Linked DNA regions of Homo sapiens: region 2 is linked to region 1. The links come from fine-mapping of genetic effects on gene expression. Tissue or cell type: adrenal gland. Region 1 holds a variant in brackets; the other region holds the start of a gene. All regions are shown on one strand. Distances are from middle to middle.

Region 1 (12,854 bases):
GTAACTAATTTTTTAAAATTATTTGATGCAAAATTTCATGTCCAAGTGTAATATTTTTGCCCATTTCTTGGGAGTGTAATTAGCAGTAAGATTCCTGTGTTACATTAAGAGAAAAAGATGTGGTTCAGTTCTCATTTGGCAGCTCATCCAATATGACCCAACATTTAACAGTTTTTTTCAGCTGCTTTTATATTCCTACCACTATTTAGAGTCTTGGGATATACCAGGGAACAAAATAAAGATTCCTGTTTTTTGAGACATCTTAATGTATATTTGTGACATAGGAATGAATGATTGCTTTCCAACACCAGATTATTCTTGGACAACATTCTAGTGAAAGTGTCGTTTTAAAAAATTGTCTTCCTCAAAATAAAAGGACTAGTTTCTCCAGAAAATTGTTTTTTGGTCAAGTTGCATGAAATTTGGCACAATACTGCCGCCTTGCGGCTACTTCAATCAGAAAACCACATACATTACAAGGTCACCTCTGTCTTTCAAGTAAGATTTACAGGAAAATTATTCTGCTTCTCAGTGGAAATATTTGACACGAAATGACCTATTCAGGAATATTTAAAATCTAATTCCGTCTGATTTTTAATAGAACGATTGGCAGGCCTCCATTGCTTTTGTGGTTGGGAACCAGATTGAAGATGATCTTCTCATCCAAGCCCTTACCGTGGCTGTCCAGGTCCCTCAGCGTAAACTCTTCAGTATGGTGTCGTGGCAAGACATTCTCCAGCAGGTACCTGTCCCTTCCTACCTCAAAGCCACCTGAAGACTTTTTTACTTAAAATAATAGAATAGAATTATAAAATAAACTATCATATTCTTGGGCTGTTTTGTAAATTTTGATGGATTATTTTAAGTAACTATTTAGCCAGAATAAATTTGAGTTGTTCAATCTGGAAGAATTTATTTTTGTTTATTAATTTTGTTAATTCAATATTCATTTATTTGACAAAGATTTCTGAGGTCATACCAGGCACCATGCTAGGTTCTGTGACAAAATATTTAATTCAAGTTAAATAATTATAAAAGACTAGACTATTTAAGATTCCAGGGAGGTACATGACTAATTGGAAAATGAAGGCTACAGAGAATCATAGCTGTCAGAGGTCAGAGGACAGCAATAATATAGAAAAGATCTGCCAGGTGGCACATACCCATACAATTACTGACAGCTTACGAAGTAACTATAAATATTTTACCTAATTCATGGGTACCTCTTTCTTGCTAGGTTCCCCAACCCTTCAGATCACCTAGATATTTGAAAGTTACATATATCTAAGTATTCTTCAAATAAGGCTTTTTTCATCATAAGTAAATTTAATTTTCTTACAGATTAATGAAATAAATACACTTGTTGGATCTGCTTCATCTAAAAAGGCAAAAAAACCTGTAGGTGGTAATGCTCCTTTATATTATGAGGTAAGTGAAAGTGTTTATAGAAGATATTTTTGTGTTTTTAGAAAAAAGAATTGAAGTAATAATTTGATAGCCATTTTTAAATTTCATTCTTTGAAAATAAATGCCTGCTCCTCATTGGAGATATTTGTTCCTGATGGTGAACACACACAAAAAAAATCTGCCTCCTTTTAAAATTTTAAAATTTCAAAATTTCCCTTTACAAATACAATTTCCTAGATCGTTTATACCATCATTGCATCTAATTGAAATAATTGAAAAATATAAATCAGAAACTTCTATAGACACAAAGTATTGGGTCATACTTTCTCATGATAATTGCTGAGTATGTGACAGCATTAAGGAGAGTCATATGATCAGTATATTACAAAGTGTTAGTTTCTCGAAAAAAACAATGTAAAAATGCGCCAGAAAGTGTTTCTTGTATAAGACAGAGGTACAGCTGCAGTGATTTTCCATCAGTTTGTGAACTTGGTGCACGGTTTATATCCCACTTTAATCGATATGAAAATAATGATACTCTTCGGATTAATGGTCCGTTCCATTTCCAACAGCTGCTTAGTATAAAATCTGGCTTGGCTGACCCAGTGGGCTTGTGCAAAGGACGTAGGACTCATTCTCCGTATAAGGGGATTTCTTCTCACCCTGCCTTGTTAATATCTAACTTACAGCTTTCAAGAAACTATAAAAATCCAGTGATTAATTAGAATATCACTTAAAATTTGTCAGGCACTGTTTTATGGAGCAGCCGACCTAAAACATAAAGAGTTTTGAATCTTTCTAAGACGAACTTGTTTGCACTTTATTTCAGTGATGACTAATAAAGTTTTTATGTGTCTCAGGTCTTGGGTGATTACATACGGTCTATTTAGTATTGCTTGAGTACTATCTGAACAAGTTTCATTGGATTTATTCACAATAGACAGTGCTGTGAATTTTATAGCATTAACTCTTGCTACGCGGCGCTCACCATCATGCCAAAGTTATCTGTGCTTTTGCAGTCAAATAATATACTTTGTCTCTTTTTTATAATGTTCCGAATGTGTGTGCTCCACTTGAAACATTATGTGATACGTGGATTTAAAATACTGGAATTTTTCTTGTGAGTGGCTATAGAAATCCACATCCAATTCTCAGGCCTGGGATCAATTAACCCCCCAAAAGATTCTTTCTTCTTCACAGATACTCAGTAAAAATCAGAAATGATAGCAGCCTAGTTTTGATGTCTAGTCTGGACAGGCATTCTGACTTGGATGTGGGATAGCACAAGATTACAAACCCAGAGTTAAGTTAGAAAGCCATTCCTCTCCAATATGTGCTGAGACTCTTGGTTGCATATTCTTCACTCAGGGGGTCCATTTCACATCTGGCTCTACCACATTCTTCCAGTGGAGCATTTGGGCAATAAGCCTCCCACACTCGCTCACATACACTCTTCTGAATGGTTCCAGAAGAAAAGAGAAGGTGGGTGGAGTGCCATGGAGACTGAACCTGAGGTGCACCAGACATTCATTAATGCCAGTCGCTGAAGCAAAACTAATAAAGACCATAAAACAAATTCAGGCTCCTTGTCAGCATCAGCCAAGGACAGGTTGCACATCTGGAGAAGAGGGGAATATTTCCCATCTCAGTCCCTTCACATTTAGGACCTGCTCAAGCACTCTGCTACCTAGTACCTCTCATCCCAAGACAATTGAAAAGTCACTGGCAACCCCTGCAGAGCTGCATGGTAGTTGCGAGTGGTGGCCATGGAATAGGCCCAGAAAGTCTCTTGGGACTTCTGGACCTTTGAGACATGTGGACAGTGTGCTCATGAATCTATTTCTGTTTAGAATCTTGCATGGTTGTACCAACTAGTGAGAGGTGAAGCTGCCTAGGCTTCTGGGTCGGGTGGGGACTTGGAGAACTTTTCTGTCTAGCTAGAGGATTGTAAATGCACCAATCAGTGCTCTGTGTCTAGCTAGAGGATTGTAAATGCATCAATCAGCATTCTGTAAAAATGGGCCAATCAGCACTCTGTAAAATGGACCAATCAGCAGTCTGTAAAATGGACCAATCAGCGCTCTGTAAAGTGGACCAATCAGCAGGATGTGGGCAGGGCCAAATAAGGGAATAAAAGCTGGCCACCTGAGCTAGCACCTTGCAGCAGGTTCGTGTACCCTTGCCGAGTGTGGAGGATTTGTTTTTTCGCTCTTTGTGACAACTCTTGCTGTTGCTCAGTGTTTGGATCTGCACCAACTTTAAGAGCTGTAACACCACGAAGTCAGTGGCTTCATTCTTTGAAGTCAGTGAGACGAGGAACCCACTGGAAGGAATCAACTCCAGACACACTAGGACACTTGATAGTGGTAAACTCCTGAGGAGCGAAAGTCTTGCAACATCCCATTTCTCAAAGGAAACTCTGCACTGTGGGAGAAGAGATAAAAGATAATCTAACAAATTCCTTTTGTTACATGGTAACTTTTTAGAAACCTCCATTTTGGAGATAAGGAACTCACGATATAACAGCCATGCATTTAAACACCTGTATTTACTTCTACTTGTAGGGTACTCTCGTTAGCTTTAAATCAAAGCCTAGTTATTCTTATTTTAAACACAATTTTAATCAATTAGGCTTTCTGGTTTCCTAGCCTGTGGTTGATTAGAAGCAGCAAACTAAAGTGAGACTTCTGTATAGTATACTTCATCCATGAGTAGTAAAATAGTGTCAGAGCCACATTGCATATTTCCAATAATGACTCCAAATGTCTGGGCTAGCAAAGACCACATTCCTAAGTGATTTGCTCAAGTTTTCATTTGGATGGCATGGTGTTGTGTACACACAGCCTCATTATGAGATTGTGTAATTTCCCCTGAAACCTTAGAATTTCATCTAGCCATGGCATTGTATATATGAAAGTCTTTATTTATAAACCATAGTTCTTTGAAAAGCTGCTTAGATTTGTGCTAATGTAATTCTGTAGAGACGTAGCTGCAGCTCATTTGTTCATTCACATTCTCTTTTTGGAAAGCATGTTTTGCTCTACTAGGAACTGTTTCAAGAACTCATGTGGGAATGAGAACAGAATATTATTATTTGTGTATATTCTCAGGAATGTTGGCTACTGCTTTATCATCTCATTATTATTTAATAATGAGGATGAAGATGAACCCATGCACTGGCATATAAGCACCATTTCCCACATGTGAATCCTACTTGAGGATATGGACACATTTGAAAATATACGCTTATTGCCTGCATTATATAGTAGCCGGTTTTACCGAATATTAACAAACATACTCGTTAAAGCACTAGTGCCAGGCACTATCAGACGATGAAGAGAGAGGAAGGAATATTAATATTATAAAGACTCTAACCTCAAGAAGCAAAGACTCTAACCTCAGGAAGCTTAAGAACAAGCTAGAGAGAAAAAAGGACAAAATGTATATGGACATAAGCCTGGCGCGTGGTAGGCATTCAATAATAGTTGCTGCGTAAGTGAATAACACAATGCAGAAAATAGTGAAGTTCTTGAGAGACAGGTAAAGTGTATAAGAATTCAAAGGAAGATGAGATTATCATTAGCTGGGGTAGTTGGCAGGGAGGGGTGAGACCCAGAGACATTTTTGTGGAAACATTGCCATTTGAAAGGAAAGGTCCTGATAGTTTTGATCTTTTACATATATTACATCAGTTAGCCCACATCACAATTCTAAAAGGAAAGATAAAATCTCCATTGTGTGCACGGGGAAATGGAGGCATAGAGAAGGTAGGAAGTCTGCTCACTAGCAAAATGAAGAATTTGGATTTAACCAAAGGTAAACCTATAGCACCAAGTTTTTCTACTTTATCACCAACCAAGTAATCTTTCACTGGTCTACCCCTTGGATAGGTAGATCTTGACTTTCAAATGTGGAAGAGGGCATTCTAAGAAAAGGGAATAGCTCAAGCAAGGCCATAGGAATGAGAGAAGACCGAATTAATGTGTACTACATTTGTAGTTATATGGTATAATATATGCTAAATAGGAAAGATGAATTCCGTACATATTTTGATGGCAACTTTAAAATCCTAAAGATGGAAATCTATGAGGAAACATTTCAAACACTGGAAAAAGTACATGGTTTAGATTCATGCCTGAACTTAAGTATACTTGCTACCTATGCACAAATAATTTTCTGTGTATGTATGCTTTATGGCCCACATAGAAAATCTGACCTGTTCATTTACAGGTATAGTCAGTCCTGACCAAAATTAAAAAGGAAAATATCAGTAGTCATTCAAAACCAACTGAAATGTTCTCGATGAGAGAGTTCTACGTGTACCATAGATGCCAAGATTCTCCCAGTTGTGACTAAATCTGATACACAGTAAGTGAACTTTATGGGATAAATGTGCAAATTTTAGGTTTGACATTATCACTTTGGTAAATCAGAAAAAGCTACTAGTTGATAGGG[G/A]TTTACTTATCCAATTTATCTGAAATCAGAACCAACCATCCTAAAAGTTTTTAAATTCCACTTCATGTTTCTTTTCATTTCATGATGGTGGTCACCATGCCTACCAACCAGGAAATGAGCCTTCATCCACACAAATGGGCCGTGATTTATGTGCCTGTGACTTATTTATAAAAGACGCATTAGGTCATCACAAAATGAAAAATAAAAAAAATGAAAAGCTTACTGAAACAAAAATTGTCTATAAAGAATAAAAGTTCTTATGCTCTAGTTGATGACTCACTTATTTCAAAACAATTTTCCAAGTTTCTGTACAATAAAGAACTTGAACTATCCTAAACATTATGTGATATGGTGCAATTTTGTAAATGCAAATAATTATTAATTTTTTTTTTACTCCTGTCAGTAAAAAAATTCTCATATTTTTAAGAAAATAATTTTTAAAATAACTTTTTAACAAATATATCTTAAAATATTTCTACGGGCCTTTCTATTGCAACCGGGAGACCATCAAATGTGGAAAGATTTTTCTGATATTAGATTTAAAAATAATGGACCAAATGCAGTTTAATAAAATGTAGAATGCAAATTAGATCTTCAGATCTAATGCATTTCACCATACTTTAAGACACTATGCTAGTGCCTCAGATTAGTATGCCCAGATGTAATAGTTCCATTTTTTGACTTCTGTTTCCTGGATGTATAGAAATTTTTCTCAGGTCTTTTCCAACATGTATTTATTAGTAATTGACAAGTGAGAACACAGGCTTAATTATAATCTATTTTGCCACTCTTTTTCAGATTCCTGATATGAAACTCATTTTTTAAACAGTGCCTTGAATTAATAGTCAATTTAATAGAATTGTAAGCCCTTATATTGGGGGTGGCCCTTGTCAGAATGAAAAATGGAAAACTCATGCTTCAGAGATAGGTACAAATAATATGTGAAAACATTTAAGAGGTTTGAAGTTATTAAAATGGCAGCTCTACTGGGAACAGAGAGAGCAGTATGTCATGGAAGAAACGAAGGAAAAGGGAGACAGGAAGCATTCTCTGGCCTTTTCAATCCCGCGCTTTAAAACAAAACAAAAAAATTCTGGAAGAATTGGAAGCTAGCCAACCTAATGCCGTTATTTCATAGAGCTTAGGGACACACCAGGAAATTGCAGGCCAGTTAGTTTAACTTCACTTGTAGGAAAAGTATTAAAAACTGCTGCAGGAGATCAAGTAAAAGGATGCTTAGAAAAGCACAGCTTGATTAAGGCAAGCCTGGCCAACGTGATTTTCGGAAAGGGAAGGTCATGTCTTAGGAACTTGTTGAAATTCTTTGAAGCTATTATGGCCAGTACAGTCTTCAAAGAATACAGCAAGACTCAGAATCTGCGGATCTTTCCGTTCCACATCAGTCCTTCAGGGATGCCTACAGAACGTGGCCCACACCAGGGCCTCGGCACTCCACATTTAGAAACCACTATCAAAATAGCAGAAATAACCCCTGATGGAACATTTTTTAAAGCTGGAACCAATTAATACAACCTGATATTTATAAATGTAAAATAATGAGACTTGGAACAAAATTTGGGAATATCAAGCTGTAACAAAGAAGTGCTACGTTGGGACTATAAAAACAATCTAGGAGTTCTTGTGCCAAAATCTGGGTTTTGGAGGCATTTCTTACCCGAAGAAGGAAAGAAGAGGAGAAATAGTAATGCTAGAAACGGTTACAAAGGGCTATGAAGAGTTACAAATGAATGACTTTTGTCAAGATGGGGAAAAGAGCAGTCAGATGTGTTAACAGCCCTGGGCCCCCACATTTCTGGAGGGCACCAAAGCAGCTCAGCAGAGAAAGTCAAGTTCAAGCTAGTCACTGAGGGGCAGAAGGTCAGGGCTCCATTGCTTTAGGAATGGGCTCCCAGGGTGTGAATACGTTTGCCTCCCAGATCAGAAACCTGGAGTTCTATTTTCAAAGAAAAGCAGAACTCAAGTAAAGGCATTCAAAAACAATTCAAATCATGCCCCAGCTCTCTTCCACCCTGGGGGTCAGGCAGCTGGCCAAGCCCATGTGGCAAATAGTTAGCAGTCCAGGAGAGGGGAGGTAGACACTGGGGAGGTGTGGTGGTGATGCAGTGGAGCCGGGGATCCAGCAGCAGGAAGCCCATGCCACACAAGGACTGGGTTGCTGGCTAGGACCTGCAGGCAGTGGGCAAGGCAGGAATCTCATCAGGAGTTCCAAGACAGACCTCAGTGGAGGGCCAGCCACAAGAATAAAGTGAGGTTCAGCTAATGAAGAGAAGTCATCACAGCTTCTCCTCCAGGTCTGGGCTGGGGTGGTTTCTGAAACCTCTTAACACCCTATACTCTACAGACACCAGGATTGGAGGGGTGCTGGGGAAGGAATCAAGAAGATTGTATCATTCTGTTTCTGTATTTAAAACTGTGAAAAATCAATAATTACATATGGTGATAATAAAAGTTACCACTTATTGAACACATGTATTCCAAGTCTTGTGTGCTGGGTAGTTCATATATATCAACTAACCTAATCTCTTTTTTTTTGGCTGGCTTTTTTCTTTTTGTGGGGAACAGGAGCGTGCTATGTTGCCTGGGTAAGTCTTGAACTCCTGGGGTTCAAGCTATCCTCCCGCCCCTGCCAGCCCAATTACTGGGATTATAGGTGTAAACCACTGCACCTGGCTAACTTAACCATCTTAACAACCTTTCAGATACCTATGAATGATGAAATTTGAATCAGACTGGTTAGGTAACTTGTTGATTCAGAAGTCTGTTTTTTCTACTTGCATCACACACAAGCTGAGAATAAATAGTTTAAATTCTGGAAGTGACTGTTGTGGTTTAATATGTCTTCAATATAAGCTACTGCTAGTTACTTAGAATTAAGCTTTAAATCTCTCAGTAGTTCTATGATATGTTTATTACTTTTCCTTCTACTCAGGCAAAAACATGAAGGTATATCTGCAGATGATGAAGAGATCAAATAATTTCAGTTGGAGCTTTTAAGCCACTTCGATGAGTGGCTTTTGCCCACATGTTTGGGTCAACAGGGTTTTTTAATTCTTATGGTTAAGATTTATATGGTTAAGTGACCATGTCTTTTCTTTGGAGGATGAAAGAAAGAAAGATGGAAAATAAGAGGGAAGTTAATACATATTCAGCAGAGATCAAAGTGTGGAGAGACCTTTCTAAAATCTCACTAATTAAAACTAATTAGAGGTAAATTCATCTCCAGAGTACCTACCACTAGTTTGGTGAGCGATATACCTAGTGGTTAAAAGTATGGAACCAAACCAGACTGCCTGGGATCATGTCCTGGTTCCACTGCTTGCTAGCTGTGTAATCTTGCACGAGTTACATAACCCTGCTGTACCTCTGTTTTCTCTTTGTAAAATCCTCGTAAATGATAGTATCTATCTTATAAAGCTGTAGTGGTGATTACATGGGATAGTAAATATAAAATACTTATTACCTGGCACAGACTTAAGTGTCCATAAAGTTTAGCTATTACTATTACTATTATTTTTAAAATTTCTATTCTCAGCAATATTCAACATCAGAACATGAAAATACTAGAAACCCATTTATGAGCAGGCTTTAAATTTTTTTTATTATGGTAAAAATATGTAACATAAAATTGCCATTTTAACCATGTCTAAGTGTATAATTCAGTAGTGTTAAATATATTCACTTTGTTGTGCAACCAACGTTCACAACTTTTTCATCTTGCAAAACTGAAGCTCTATATCCATTAAATGACAACTGCTGATTTCTCCTGCACCCTGGCCCCTGATGACCACTGTTCGATTTTCTGTTTCTACGAATTTGACGACTCTGGATACCTCATATAAATGGAATCATATAGTATTTGTCTTGTTGTGCCTGGTTTGGCATAATGTCTTCAAGGTTCATTCATGTTGTACCATGTGTCAGAACTTCCTTCTTTATTAAAGCTGAATAATATTCCAATATGTATATACCACATTTATCTTATGCATTTATCCATTAGTGGACACGTGGGTTGCTTCCACCTCTTAGCTCTGCTATGAACGTGGGTGTTCACATTGTGAGGAGGTTTTTCTCTAAGTGGAGTATGATTACTGAAAGTTAAGTAGACATTTAATTAAGCAAGTAAGGGAAGAAAAGAAGTTAATCAGTGGTCAAAGGATATTTGCAGTGTCCCATTATACTAGTCCTCATGGCCGTGATGGAGACTAATATACATTATTCTTCTTTGTTATGTCATGTAAGGGGTCAATATGACGGAACACCTTAAGAAACAAACAGCAGTAGTAACCATTTCTAAAATAAATAATTTTAAAAATAAAATTTCATGTTTATGTAAAAAGATGATTTTCACACTGCTTATTAAATCTTCACGTGAACTGGGCAGAACAGTTAAAATTAATCTCCATAGTGCAAATGAAGAAATGGAAGCCCAAAAACTTAAATGATTTGTTCACAGTCACCAATGGAATCAGCGTCAGTTCTTCTAATAGTCTAGAGCTTGCTCTACACCTGGCAGAAGGGAGTTCTCATTCATTAAAAAGTTCTTGCTCATTTATTTACCACAAGAAAATTGTATATAATGGATAAAGATTTGCTTTATTACCTAGACATTTATTTTAATGTGCATTAAAAAATAAAATTAGACTAACTTGCAACTCCCCCAACACTGTGCTTCGGACAGAGCTACCTTATTTTTTTAAAACTTGATTTACAGTCAGCTTAGAGAAAATGATTAGGTTTATAGTACAGGTGGTACATAGCTTTGGCTAAATCATCAAATGATAGTCAATGACTAAGGTTTAGGAAATGTTTCATTTTCATGCATTCCATAAATATTCAAAGGTCTATTATGTACAAAATCTATGATTGGATTGACCTTGGTGAACAAAATAGTTATAACTGCCTGGCCTCATATAATTTACATTTGAATGGGGGAGACGGACATTAAGCAAAACTCAAAACAAGCAAACAAATATATACACAATTTTGAGTTAGTTTCATTGCTTTAAATCAGAGAGAATTACTGAGGAAAACACTGTAGGCTGAGTGTTTGGAGATGAATGAAAGGAAAAGAAGATCCAACTGAAAAGAGCAAGGGAAAATATTCAGGCAGAGGGTGCAAAAACCCTAAGGCAGGAATAAAGAAGGCCCGGGTGCCTGTAGCACTGAGAGTGGGAGACAGGAGAAGCCCAAAGAGGCCACATCTGCTGGCTGGTGAGTCCTTGTTAAAAAGGAGTTTGCCGTTTTATTTCATAGGAAATTAGAAAGCCATTAAGACTTTAAAGAGGAGAATGACACAATTAAGTTCTTTTAAAAAATATTTTCTGGCTGCCAAGTGAAGAATAAATTAGGATGAAGGCAGGCAAACATGGAAATGAGACCAGTTAGGAGGCCACTGGGGGTATCCAGGTGGCAATGGGGAGAGCACACAGATTCAAGGAGAATATTTAGAAGGAAGAATTTGGCAGATCGGTGCCCTTGTGAGATGTGAGGGGTGAAGAAGAAGCTATCAAGAGTGAATCCCATAGTTCTGGCCTGAGAGACTGAATAAAAATATCCTTTTTTTCTTTCTTTATGTTTTATAGTTTCATTCCTTTTTATTGTAAATTGACATTTATAATTGAATACATTTATGGGGTAAAAAGTGGTGTTATAATTTATGAATACAATGTGGAATAATTAAATCAAGCTAGTTAACATATCCATTACCTCAAACATTTAACATTTTTTGTGGTGAGAACATTTGAAATTTAACAATTTTGAAATGTACAATTCTCTATTATTAACTATAGTCACTACACTGTGCAAATTTAAAAAAAGAAAAAATGTATTTTTCCTTTTAAACTGAGATTTTCTACCTTTTGACTATTGTCTTAGTCTGTATTCTGTTGCTTATAACAATACCTGAAATTGGGTAATTTATAAAGAAAAGGAATTTATTTTTTATAGTTAAGGAGGCTGAGAAGTCTCAGGTCAAGGGCACCCATCTGGTGGGAGCCTTCTTCCTGGTGCGACTCCATGCGGAGTCCTGAGGTAGCACAGGAAATCACACGGCAAGGGGGCGAATATGCTAATATGCCAGCTCAGGTCCCTCCTCCTCTTTTTATAAAGCTACAAGTTCCCCTCCTGTGATCATCTATTAATCTATTAACCCAGTAATCCATGAATGCAAAGCCCTATCTGGTCACTTCTTAAAGGTCCCACCTATCATACTGCCACAATGGGGATTAAGTTTCAGCATGAGTTTTGGAGGAGACATTCAAACAATAGCAACCATCATCTTTCCATTCCCCCCACCCCCCAGTCTCTGTAACCACCATTCTACTTTCTGCTTCTATGAGTTTGATTTTTAGATTCCCCATGTGAGTGCATGCAATATTTGTCTTTATATGCCCAACTCATTTCACTTAGCATAATGTTTTCTGATTCCATCACAAATGAGAGTTTCCTTCTTTTTTAAGGCTGAATAGTATTCCATTTAATGTATATACCATATTTCTTTATCTATCCATATGTTGATGAACGCTTAGATTGATTCCATACCTTGGCTATTGTGAATAGTACTACAATGAACATGGAGGTGCAGACACCTCTTTAACAAGTTGATTTCAAATCTTTTGGGTAAATACCCAGAAGTGAGATTGCTGGATCATATAGTAATTCTATTTACAGTTTTTTGAGGACCCTCCATAGTGTTTTCCATAATGGGCTGTCGTAACTTATATTCTTGCCAATAATGTACAAGGGTTCCCTTTTCTCCACATCCTGGCTGACACTTGTTATCTTTCATCTTTTTGAAAAAAATTATCTGACAGGTGTGAGATGATACCACATTATGGTTTTAATTTGCATTTCCCTAATAATTAGCAATGTTGAGCATTGTTCATATATCTGTTGTCTATCTGCATGTCTTCTTTTGAGAAATGTCTATCCACCCCAGGTCTCTTGCCCATTTTTTTTAAATTTTTTTTCTT
Region 2 (12,854 bases), 39 kb before region 1:
ATTCAAGGCCAAAACTATAAACTACAAATACTGCTTTTATCATTGACAGAAACTGAGGGTTCTTAGGGTAGTTCTTCTCTGGAAAGTGATCTACTCCCAGGCTCCCCAGAATTCACACGGGATTACAAATTGCAAGCACTGCAGCTGATTTTAATTGCCACAGTGATGCATAGGGAGAGATGTGATATCTGGAGTAACTGGCTTCTAAACAATGAGGGGTTTTAAAGATTAAAGTCAACACTTTAAATAGCACTCAAAAATAAATAGGAAGCTAATGCTGACCATAGAATGCAGGTATAATATTCTCCATATGTTTTGGACCCTGTAGCTGAAAGACACCTAGCCCTTTGTATCACACACAATAAAAACTCAAAGACAGGGCATTATAGCACTCTATTTTGAAGGTTAGAAATGCAAAGATCATGGTGTGAACAAGACATATGTATACCGAGAGGTGTTCTTGGATGTAGGATACCAACTGGAGAAATCAGTAGACATCTGTGAGGCCTTCTTAACCCAAGGCAAGTTGGTTGCTGCAGCTAAATGGATTTTGAATACCTGGAATCCTGGCCTAGAAGTGACTTGGTCTATAGTTCCTGCTGTTACCTGACAACAATGGAAGTACTGGATGCATCAATAGTTGGCTAAACCTTTCAAGTATGAAAAGTAATATGGCTGACTTCACACCTGAGTAAGAGTGAATTATAAGATCAAAGCATAATACTTGAAGAAATAACTTATTTAGTAATCATAGCCTAAAGAAATCATGCATCCCTGAAAGTGGACAGTCTTTGGTAAGCTAAACATATCAAATGCAAACTCATACTGGAAAAACTAAATCAAACAAACCAGGAGTAACCCTGCCAATGTGAAAGAAAATTTTCCAAATAGTATAGTTTTGTTTTAGCCACTGACATATGGGAAAATTTATGTAGTAAAGTATATGCTTATAAAGTTTCAACTTATATTTAGTGGGGGAAACAATTTATTATACCAAAAAAGCATAAACGTATGACAGATGGTAATGCTTTTTTTCTGTTCTTGGCAGGGTCCTTTTTTGGCTGAATGACTTTTGCTACTTCAAATTGTGAACATTGTCATTCACACCTATTTTCTGAAATTAAACAGACCAATTCTATGACGAAACCCCTTATAAATTTGGTTACTGTATAATATCTTCCCATTTTGTATCATAAATTATCTAGAGCACCACTTTCCCTAGAATAATGGAAAAGGCCAAAACTGGGCAAAAAGCATTCTGTAATAAAACCTTTATTTTAAACTCCTTAAATCAATTTTGGAAAACCTTTTATATTTAAATGTTTTCTGGTAGGACTTTACCAAGGAAACTATAAAAGATTATATTAGAAATACACTCTTCCATTCTGAAATATTTATTTTTGGCTTTTAAAATGTTCAACTCCTTTAAATCATTTTCAAAATTATAAATGATGTATATGGATAGCTAGGTGATGGATCTAGTTGGTTTATCTTCCGAAAAATAGGAACATTTTTTCCTAAGTATAGGTGATATAAGACTAGTTTCTTGTATTACTTAACTATGCAAACCATTTGTTTAAAGTAAGAAATTTATTTACTAGATAAAGAAGCGAAAGAATGTACTGTATATGCAAATGGAAAGCAAGGTAAAGGGTGAGATCGAGATCTCACTAGATGCATGGGGTAGTGGGGAGGTAGGGATTAGATCTTCCTGCCTCTCACAGTGGCCAGCATTGTGTATTGCCTCCTTGAAAGTAACAAGGTTTTTCTCTCAGGCAGTTTCAGAAAGGCTGGCTGGTGTTAGATTTATTAACAGGTGATTCTCAGATGAAAATGATAAAAAATGTTAGGGTAGTTACGGTAACCCTTGCTGCTGTAGCAAACCCCAGTACTTCAGCAGCTTTAAGAAAAATGTTTAATTCTCACCTACATAATAGTCCCAAGCAAATGCTTTTGGTGGGAGGAGCAAGATGATCTTCAGGGGAAGGAGAGACCTCTGTGTCACAGCAATCATTCAGAGATTCAAGGTTTTCAATGCCACCCCAATATCAAGCAAAAAGGGTATGAAGAATGCTGGGGGACATTTTTCAAGGCCAGGCTTGGCTAGAACTCAGTCACATGTTCACATCTAAGAATAAGGAAGGCCAAAAAATGTCTGACTCCCATATTAGGAGAAAATAAAAGGAAATGTCTGATGAACAACTGGATAGTTTCTGTCACAATAAATATTGCAAACATCTTACTGCTGCCAATATTGTGGTTGGACAGCTGTCACTTGTTAAAAAAAATGGCTAGTGACACTATCTCTGCAATTTTTAAATAACACTTAATTTTACTTTTTTTCTGCTTATTCTATTTTTTCCTCTTCTTATCTGCAACGTATTTTATTAATCATCTGCTAGTGATCTGGCAAAACTGATTGCAGGTAATGGTTTATTTTGAAGTGTGCGTTCACATTCAAGAAGAAAGAATATTAGTAATGTAGCGAGACACGCACAAACAGCTAAATTTTTTAATAAAATATCCCGGAATGCCAACAAACTTTTTACTACGTTTTAAATAAAAAGGCAGGACTTTTTTTCCCCCAGTTTAAAACTATGAGAACTTAATCAAAATTTAGAATGATCTAATTAATGATTAGGTAGATTTTTTTTTTTTTGGTCTGAAAGAGACTCAACTTTATTTTCTAGCCATAATACAAAGAAAATTTTCATCTTACAAATGCTGAAAAAATTTTGGTGAGGAACAAAATTTTGGAGAAAATGCTATGAAAATTAACAGCAGCCTCGGTGTTGTTATAGACTCTCAGGAAAATTCTTTTCTGGCAGATCTCTCTCTGGCATTACCATGCATCAGTTATTTTATTTTCATGACAAAAGAGGGCTTCCAGATGTAAATTATTTAGCCTATGGCCAGGCTGCCATAGGATCTATCTATTCCCTCCCAAGAAGATGAACTGTATTTATTCCAGCAAGAAATAAAAACTCGTATTTTTCTGTAAAGTTTCTGTGAAAGACTGTTTCTAGAAATTATTTTTCTTTAATACAATGGTCCCTTGGTATCCACAGGGAATTAGTTCCAGGACCCTTCACGTTCTCAGATAGAAAAATGTCTGATATTCAAGTCCCTTAATGATGTGTCTGCATTTGGTTCCTGCCGGTGGGTTCATGGTATCGCTGACTTCGAGCATGAAGCCCAGGCTTCCACGGTGTTATAGCTCTTAAAGATGGCATGGACCCTGTCCGGGTGCGGTGGTTCACGACTGTAATCCCAGCACTTTGGGAGGCTGAAGTGAGAGGATCACGAGGTCAGGAGATGGAGATCATCCTGGCTAACACAGTGAAACCCCATCTCTACTAAAAATACAAAAATTAGACAGGTGTGGTGCTGGGCGCCTGTAGTCCCAACTAGTCAGGAGGCTGAGGCAGGAGACTGTTGTGAACCCAGTCTGCCTCCGCTGGGAGGCAGAGCTGGCAGTGAGCCGAGATCCACCATTGCATTCCAGCCTGGGAAACAGAGTGAGACTCCATCTCAAAAAAAAAAAAAAAAAAAAGATGGCACAGACCCAAAGAGTGAGTGGTAGCAAGGATTTTTGTGAAGAGTGAAACAGCAAAAGCACAAAGCTTCCACAGCATTGAAGGGGACCCAACAGGTTGCCGCTGCTGGTTGGTGGTGGACAGCTTTTATTCCCTTATTGTCTCCGCCCATGTTTTGTTTTTGTCCTATCAGAGCGCCCTTTTTTCAATCGTCACTACGATTGGCTACTTTTAGGATCCTGCTGATTGCTGCATTTTACAGAGTGCTGATTGGTGCATTTTACAGAGCACTGATTGGTGCATTTTTACAGAGCACTGATTGGTGCATTTTACAATCCCCTTGTTAGCTACAGAGCACTGATTGGTGCATTTTACAATCCTAGCTACAGAGTGCTGATTGGTGCATTTTACAATCCTGTTGTAAGAAAAGTTCTCCAAGTCCCCACTCAACCCAGGAAGTCCAGCTGGCTTCACCTCTCAATAAAATGGCCTAGTATTTGCACATAACCTACGCACATCCTCTCCTACACTTTAAATCATATCTAGATTATTTATAATATCTAATATTATGTAAATGCTGTAAAATAGTTGTTATGCTGTATTTTTATTTGTATATTTATTTATGTTTTAATATTTTGGATCCAAAGTTGGTTAAATCCAGGGATGAAGAACTGTGATGATGGGAGGGCTCACTCTAACTATATTAAAGAATTAGGGTGGAAAGATAAACTTCCTTTCATGGTCCAAATTACGAACAAAAGTTGAAGCATCATCATTAAAATTTGCCCCCAAATGAAAAAGGATGCTAGTGGCTGGATAGCACTATCCTCCTTCCCTCAATTTATTCCTCAAAGAAATTAAAAGGGTTAGCAATTAAAAGGTTTAGAACATCCCCCGTGGAAGGTCACCCGTTCATCAGGTTGTGCCCAGGGAAATTAAGTTTCTGGCTTGCATCACCTCACTCATCTGGGCCACTGGGATAACTGAAGCATCTCACCTCTAGGCAAAGTGCAGGGCCTTAATGGCTAGTTAAGCCCTGGTCAGTGCTGAATTCCATATGACTAATGAGACCGCAAGGCACCTTTGGTTGCGCTCTGCCCCAGGGTGTCCTCAAATTTGTCTCACTGCAATAAAAAACAAAAGTAAATCTAGCTCCAGAAGGGGGTATCCCTCATTTTGGCAGGCCTAAAACAGTAGTAGACAGCAGTGTAGCAGTTATGCACACTAGATCTGTGACTCAGATAATCCTGGGATCTAATCCTGGCACCATCAATCAGACACTGTGGGAATTGGATAAGGTGGTTGTGAGAATTAAATGAAATAATCTTGTATATAGCATATAACCAGTGCCCAAGAAACAATGGTTTTTATTACTATCATTATTTTGGGAAACTTGTCCAACCAGGATATTTTAGATATTGATGAGTGCAGGGTGGGAAAAAAGGGGAAAAAAAAGTCTACTTACCAATCAATAAAAGGCAGTTTAAAGGACTGGAGCTGTTTGGGCAGATAAGTACATTAATCCCACCTACAGTTAGATAAGGGGTCACGTGGAAGGGTGATTGGACTTGTTTAGTAAGGCCCCAGAGGCGGAGGCTGAAACAGTGCAGAGGGTAGAGGTCAAGGAGAGACAAATTTGGATTCATATAAGGAAGCATTTGGGGCAGATTAGAGCGGTTGGGAAAAAACGGCATGGGCTGCCTCCTGAAGGGGTCAGTATTCCAATCTTGGTTACTCAGGATCGGAAGAAATCTTGATGGAGGAGTCCTGGATGGGATTCCAGAGATTTTGAGTTTCTAGACAACGCCTCAGACCGTAGAAGAACGTAGCCCGACCTGCGAGGCCAGCCTCGTCCTGCCCTCCTCCAGTTGTGCAGCTTTCCTGCTGAAAAGTCCTAAAATTTGACCGGGGGACTGGGAACCCCGCCCCCAAGCTGCCGCGCGCTCTGAAACTCCGTTGCTGTGGAGACGGAGGCGGTTGACCCAAGGATTCCGAACGGTGTTGGGGGAGGGGAGCCGACGTGGTTCAGGAACTGGGCGTGGCTTCGGTTACTGTGGTAGCGGGGACGCTTAGGCAGGGCCTGCGCCCAGTTTAGAGGCCAATGCTTCTCCCGTCCTTTGCATGGCACCCAAGAAGGAGAAAGGAGGAACTGTGAACACCAGTTCTAAGATATGGGAACCCTCGCTCATAGCTGCACAGTTCAATCAGGTGAGCCTTGAGCCCTTTAAGCCCTCCCTGCCCCCGGCAATGCCAGAGGCCCGGCCAGACCCTCCTAGGCGACGCCTTAAGGCTCGCCCTCTCTTCCGTATCTCTCCGTGGCCTGATGGTTCCAGGACCCAGGGTCCCAGGGACAGGAAGTGCTTGATAAACGAACGGAACTTAAGGGAACACCCACCAGGTGAGTCAGTGTGATTTCAAAGGTTGGTGAGAACTGCCTAGTGGGGAAGAGAGGAGGTGTCGCTCTGACACCTCCAGAACCTTTTCAGTGAAGTCGTCCAGATGGCACTCCACAATTGTACTGGAATTCCTTTTATGGACTTTTTGTTTTCTCCTGAAACCTTCTAAAGGATGAGAATCGCATCAAATCATCTGTGGCCTGGCCCATAATAGGGCTTTAATAAATGCTGAGTGAAAACAGACACGGAGTGCCTAGAATTACACTGTATTTAGTACAAGCGAGCCTTGTATAGATAGGAAAAGATGATTTTTTAATGTAATGCCCTGATCCCACTATATTAAAGTTTTGACATATTTTTAAGGTGTGGGAGATCAGAGCAATGAGGGGTTGGCGGCCAACTTACCCACAGAATGCCACAAAGGCACCAGGCAATCTACAAACCACCTACCACAGGACTTCAAAGTGCATGAGATCCCAGAATTCACTGGCTCCCCACCCAGCTTCAGTAAATGAGGAGCCCAATAGCTCTTGTCACCTGCAGCTGGAAATCCCCTTCTACATTAAGCTGTTTCTACGTACAAGTTAGCATTTGGGAAGAGAAAAGTTGTTTCTGGAAATTCCAGCCCGCCATTATGAACTACTTTGAAAAGTGGGGAAAAAAAATTTTTTTTTCATTTTATATATGTCTGTATGGTGCACTAGAGAGTCAGTACTTAAAGGGAAAATGGATCTAAAGTCTTGTGTTGCCTTCATGAGAAATTTTTACCTGTCTTTATTTTCCACTATAACTGTTTTTTTTTCCTATTAACAGTAATTCTGTTTGATAAGGAAATTAGTCCTGATGAAGAATTTCATGAAAGTAGTTGTGATACTCCTGATGCTGATGTGATGTCATGGAATTTTGGGTCCTTTCTATAACTTTAGTAATGCTGGATGTCAACTCAGTAATCCCCAGTTACATTCTCAAATTCTCAAAGATGTTTTTCAAAGCACTTTGTAAAAGCACCCTCTCTTTTGCTTTTATAAGTCAGCGCTAGCCAAAATAATTTTTTCTCCATTTTCTTTGAGATTGTGTAGGCCAAGTTTGGTCTTGGAGTGAACATTTCTGCTTGAATTATAAACTGCTGAACAACGGAGTTTGATGGAGGTGCTGACACTGCATTAGCTTTAGTGTTGCAAATATGAAGCTATAATTTTCCTAGTTGAATGGAAAACCTAAAGGCACTATTTGTCCTTATGGCTTGAAAACCTGAAATAATATTCAGCTTTCTTGATCCTACTCAAACAATATAACTTCAATAAATCTTATGTATTAATAGAAAGAATTTGAACTCAAAGTAATATGTAGTTTTAACTATAAACAGTGAACTCAATTTTCTTCAGTTTGTTGGAATACACATTTTCTTATTGCAGGAAAAAGACAACTACCCTCCACCTCCTCTCTCATTTTTCTCTGCTTGATTTCATGTCTGATCTAAAAGAATAATTCCCAGATTAACCCAGCAGTTCAATGCCCAGAGGCGTGCCCTAACCACCAATGAAACGGACTCTGAATTTAGGTTATAGATGACTGTGGGTGTGTGAATTTTGAGCACACGTAGTGTGCTCTATTGTTTTAGTATCCAGAGAGTTTCTTTCCATACACTTGTTACTCATGTCCAAGTATGTGTGGTTGAGTGTGTGTGCTAGTTTATGTGTTGTATTATGTGTGTGTGCTGGGGGTGAGAGAGAAGGAAAGAATTCCTCCAGTCTTCCATAAACAAGTTTTTAGAAGTAACTCATTGGATAACCCAAATCAATAGTATTTTTGAACTCATGTTCATGTTGGGTAGGCTTTAAAGAGAATAAACAAGTTCACATTTTGGTTTTATTGAATTTACCTTGTATCACTGTCTCAGGTTGTCCTTTCAGGCTGGAATAATTATCAGTTGTTTCATACATTTTAGTTGGTTTTAAAATATAAAATGATAGCAAATAATACAAAGCATTCTATCACTAAGCACTAAATGATTAAATAGAGACTAGAGGTTAGGAAGATGAATATGGGCTGGGATAGTCAGGAAATGATTTGTAAAATATTTGCCTTCACCTGGGCTCTAAATAATGGGTGGAATTTGAACAGGTAGAATGAAGAAGCATGATTATTTTAAGTAGGGAGACTAATATGTGCACCAAGTAAATCTGATACATTTAGATTGGGAGAAAAATGTACGTTAGACCACTTCTGGGTCTACGTTGCTCCTAAATTAATTCCGTCAAGGAAATGGTCATTTACTATCTTTGCTATCCATATACCAAAATATTTAACTTACTGATATGAGTGAAATATCACATCTCAAATTATATAAAAAGAAAATAGGTACATTGGCAATAAGATAAAAATACCCTTTTGTGTTAGTATGTATGTGACATAGACATTATATTTATGATCTCTAGCAGCATTAGAAAGTCAAAGATGCCTTGGTATCATAGAGATTAAAATCTTTCCATGCAATGGTCAAGGCAGGCTCTATTGGCCACAGTGATAGGAAGAAGTGTTAACCTTAGCACTCGGTACTATTTAAACAATATTAATTCCCCATCCTTCCCTCTCCTCACCCCCTGGAAGCTGCCATTGTACTTTCTTTCTCTCCAAATTTGACTACTTTAGGTACTTCATGTAAGTGGAATCATGTAGTATTTGTCTTTTTGTGACTCTTATTTTTACTTAACATAATGTCTTCAAGGTTCATTCATATTGTAACATGTCTCAGAATTTCCTTACTTTTTACATTTTATTTATTCATTCATTCATTGATGGGCACTTGGGTTGCTTTCACCTCTTGGCTGTGGGTGTGCTAAAATCTGTTGGAGTCTCTGCTTTAAAATCATTTGGGTATGTGTACAGAAGTAGAATTGCTGGATCATATGATAATTCTGTATTTAATTTTGTTTTGAGACGGGGTCTGTGTGGCCCAGGCTGATCTCAAACTCCTGGACTCAAGCAATCCTTCCACCTCGGGCTTTCAAAGTGCTAGGATTGCAGGATTAAGCCACTGTGCCCAGATTTAATTTTTTGAGGAACTACCATATCATTTTGCACAGTGGCTACATCATTTTGCATTCCCACCAACAATGTACAAGGATTTCCATTTCACCACATCTGTGCCAGCACTTTTTATTTTTTATTTATTTATTTTTTGGTGAGGTTTGTTTTTGTTCATTTTTTGGTTTTGTTTTTGATTTTTTAATAATAGCTGTCCTAACAGATATGAGATGATAGCTCACTGTGGTTTAGATGTTCATTTCTCTAATGATAAGTGATGTTGAGTGTCTTTATTCTTTGTCTCTTGTAACAACTTTTGACTTAAAGTCTTTTTTTGTGTGTAATAGTTGCTTAACTTCCCCTGCTCTCTCTTGGTTACTATTAATATTTGCATGGAATATCTTTGTCTGTTCCTCACTTTCAACCTATGCATATCCTTAGAGCTAAAGTGAATCTCTGCACACAGCATATACTTGGATTCTGAGTAGTTTTGTTTTTTTTTTAATCCATTCTGCCAGTCTCTGTTTTATTATTGTAGGGTTTAATACATGTACATTTAAAGTAATTACTGGTATGAAAAGACTTACTTTTGCTAGTTTATTATTTCTTTTCTATATGCCTGACAGATTTTTTTGTCCTTTGTTACCTCCATTGGTGCCTTTGTTTAGTTGATTTTTTTGTGTGACATGTTTAGAATGCCTTTTCATTTTCTTCTGTGTATATTCTATAGATATTTTCTTTGTGGTTACCATGGGGATTACATATATCATAAAATTATAATAATCTGTCTTAAATTGATACTAACTTAATATCAATTGCTTATATAAATTCACTTTACAGCTTCACCTTCTGCATGACTTATGATGTCACAAATTACATCTTTATATACTATGTACCCATTAGCATAGATTTATAATTAATTTTATACATTTTTCTTTAACTCCTGTAGAAAATAAAGTGGATTTGCAAATCAGATTACAATAATACTGTTAAAAATAAATTTGTCCATGCATTTTTTTACCAAAGAAATTTATATTTTTTATAGCTTTCAGCTACTATCTAGCATCCTTCATTTCAACTTCAAGGACTCCCTTTAAAATTTTTTTATCAATTTTATTTTTGTATTCATACGTAATAGAGGTACACATTTTAGAGGTACATGTCATAATTTAATACAATCATATAGTTTGAAAAGATCAAATGACTATAAGTAGGATATTCATCACTTTAAATATTTGTCTTTTCTTTATACTAGAAACATTCCAATTATTCTCTTCTAGCTTTTTTGAAATATATGATAGATTATTGTAAATTATAGTCACTCTACTGATCTATTAAACACTAGGACTTATTTCTTCTATCAAACTCTATATTTGTACCCATTAAGCAAACTCTATGCCCTGGCTTCGCTACTTTTCCCAGCCTCTGATAACTGTCACTCTACTCTTTATCTTCATGAGATCTACTTTTTTATTTCCTACATAAGAGTGAGAACATACGATATTCATCTTTCCCTTATTTCACTTAACATAATGAACGCCAGTTCCATCCTTGTTGCTATAAAGGACAAGATTTCATATTGTATGGCTGAATAGTATTTCATTGTGTATATGTACTGCATATATACAGTTTTCTTTATTGATTCATCTGTTGATGGGAACTTAGATTGATTCCATACTTTGGCTATTGTGAATACTGCTGCAATAAACATGGAAGTGCAAATCTTTCTTTGATACATTGATATCATTTATTTTGGCTATATACCAAGTAGCAGAACTGCCGGATTATATGGTAGTTCTACTATTAGTTTTTTGAGGAATCTCCCTACAGTTTTCTATAGTGTCTGTACTAATTTACATTCTCATCAGCAGTATACAAGAGTTCCTCTTTCTCCACATCCCTGCCAACACTCATTATTCCCTGTCTTTTTGATAAAAGCCATTTTAACTAGGGTGGGATGATATCTCATTGTAGTTTTGATTTGCATTTATCTGATGATTAGCGATGTTGAGCATCTTTTCATATACCTTTTGGTCATTTGTACATCTTTTTTGAGAAATGTCTATTTGAATCCTTTGCCTATTTTTAAATCAGATTATTTGGGGTTTTTTCCTATTTAGTTGTTTGAGCTCCTTAAATACCTGGTTATTAATCCCTTGTCAGATGGATAATTTGCAAATATCTTCTCCCACTCCATGAGTTGTCTTTTCACTTTGTTGATTGTTTTCTTTGCTGTGCAGAGCTTTTTAACTTGATATGATCCCACTTCTCTATTTTTGCTTTGGTTGCATATGCTTTTGAGGTCTTACACAAAAAAATACTTGCCTAGACCAATGTCCTGAAACATTTCTCCAATGTTTTCTTCTAATAATTTCATAGTTTCAGGTATTAGATTTAAGTCTGCAATCCATTTTGATTTGATTTTTGTTTATGGAGAGAGACAGGGGTCTAGTTTCATTCTTCTGCATATGGATATCCAGTTTTCCCAGCATTTATTTCCCATTTATTGAAGAGACTGTCCTTTCCTATTGTAAGCTCTTGGCACTGCTGTTGAAAATGAGTTTACTACAAATTCGTGTATTTATATCTGAGTGCTCTATTCTGTTCCATTGGTCTATGTGTCCATTTTTATGTGAGTCCCATGCAGATTTGTTTACTATATTTTGAAATCAGTTTGATGCCTCTAGCTTTGCTCTTTTTGCTTAAGAATCCTTTGGTTCTCCTGGGTTTTGTGTGGTTCCATGTAAATTTTAGGATTTTTTTTCTATTTCTGTGAAGACCGTCATTAGTATTTTAATAGGGATTGCATAACTGTAAATTATTTTGGATAGTATGGATATTTTCACAGTATTAATTCTTCCAATCCATGAGCATGGGATATCTTTTCTTTTTGGTGTATATCCTCTTCAATCTCTTACATCAGTGTTTTCTAGTTTTACTTGTATAGATCTTTCATTTCTTTGATAAAATTGATTCCTAGGCATTTTATCACTACTGCAAATGGGCTTACTTTATTGATTTTTTTTCAGATTGTATGCTGCTGGTGAATATAAGTGCTACTGATTGCTGTATGTTGATTTTGTATCCTGCAACTTTACTGAATGTTGATTTTGTATCCTGCAACTTTACTGAATATATCAGTTCTAACAGTCTCTTTGGTGAAGTCATTAGATTTTTCTAAGTATGAAATCATGTCTGTGAACAATGCTAATTTGACATATTTCTTTTCAATTTGGATGTCCTTCATCTCTATCTCTTGCCTAATTGTTCTGGCCAAGATTTCCAGCATTATATTGAATAAAAGTGGTAAAATTCAGCATCCTTTTCATCCTATTCCAGATCTTAGAGGAAAGGCTTTCCATTTCTTCCTGGTCAGTATGATTTTAGCTGAGGGTTTGGCCTTTATCATTTGAGGTATGTTTCTTCTACACCCAGTTTTTTATGGTTTTCATCCTAAAGGGATGTTAAATTTTGTCAAATGCTTTTTCATCATCTATTGAAATGATCATATATGTTTTGTTCTTGGTTCTGTTCATACAATGTATCATGTTTCTTGATTTACATATGTTAAGCCATCCTCGCATTCCTGACATAAATTCCACTTGATAATGGTAAATTATCTTTTTAATGTGTTGTTGAATTTGGTTTGCTAGTATTAGGTTGGTGCAAAAGTAATTGCGGTTTTGGCCATTTTAATGATATTTATCACTTTATCAGTGATACTGACCTATAGCCTTTTACGTTGTTGTTTCTTTATGTGGTTTTGGTATCAAGGTAATGCTGGCATCACAGAGTAGGTTTGGAAGTATTCTCTTTTTCTCAATTTTTTTGAAGAATTTGAGTAGAATTGGTAAGAGTTTTACTTTAAATGTTCAATAGAATTCAGCAATGAAGC

Which allele goes with the higher level. Alleles are on the strand shown, and positions count from the first base shown. SD is a standard deviation of normalised expression in the study named.
For the expression in adrenal gland of the gene that starts at base 5,587 in region 2, allele G in region 1 goes with a lower level than allele A (large effect, 1.2 SD a copy in GTEx).

Evidence for each region.
Region 2: SPAG17 starts here. The variant in region 1 is fine-mapped to the expression of SPAG17 in adrenal gland (GTEx, PIP 0.96).

Annotation. Positions count from the first base shown.
Region 1 is chr1:118,139,117-118,151,970 of GRCh38, reverse strand. SPAG17 (sperm associated antigen 17) reads left to right here. Exons shown (of 49, transcript NM_206996.4): 2 at 602-742; 3 at 1,342-1,428. Among named protein-coding and RNA genes, the nearest start is that of SPAG17, 40 kb to the left of the region's middle. The variant G/A (reference allele first, on the strand shown) is at 5,863.
Region 2 is chr1:118,177,961-118,190,814 of GRCh38, reverse strand. SPAG17 (sperm associated antigen 17) reads left to right here and starts at 5,587. Exons shown (of 49, transcript NM_206996.4): 1 at 5,587-5,744. The coding sequence starts at 5,658. It overlaps LOC105378930 (a long non-coding RNA gene), which reads right to left and starts at 5,585. Exons shown (of 4, transcript XR_947746.3): 1 at 5,002-5,585; 2 at 4,534-4,660.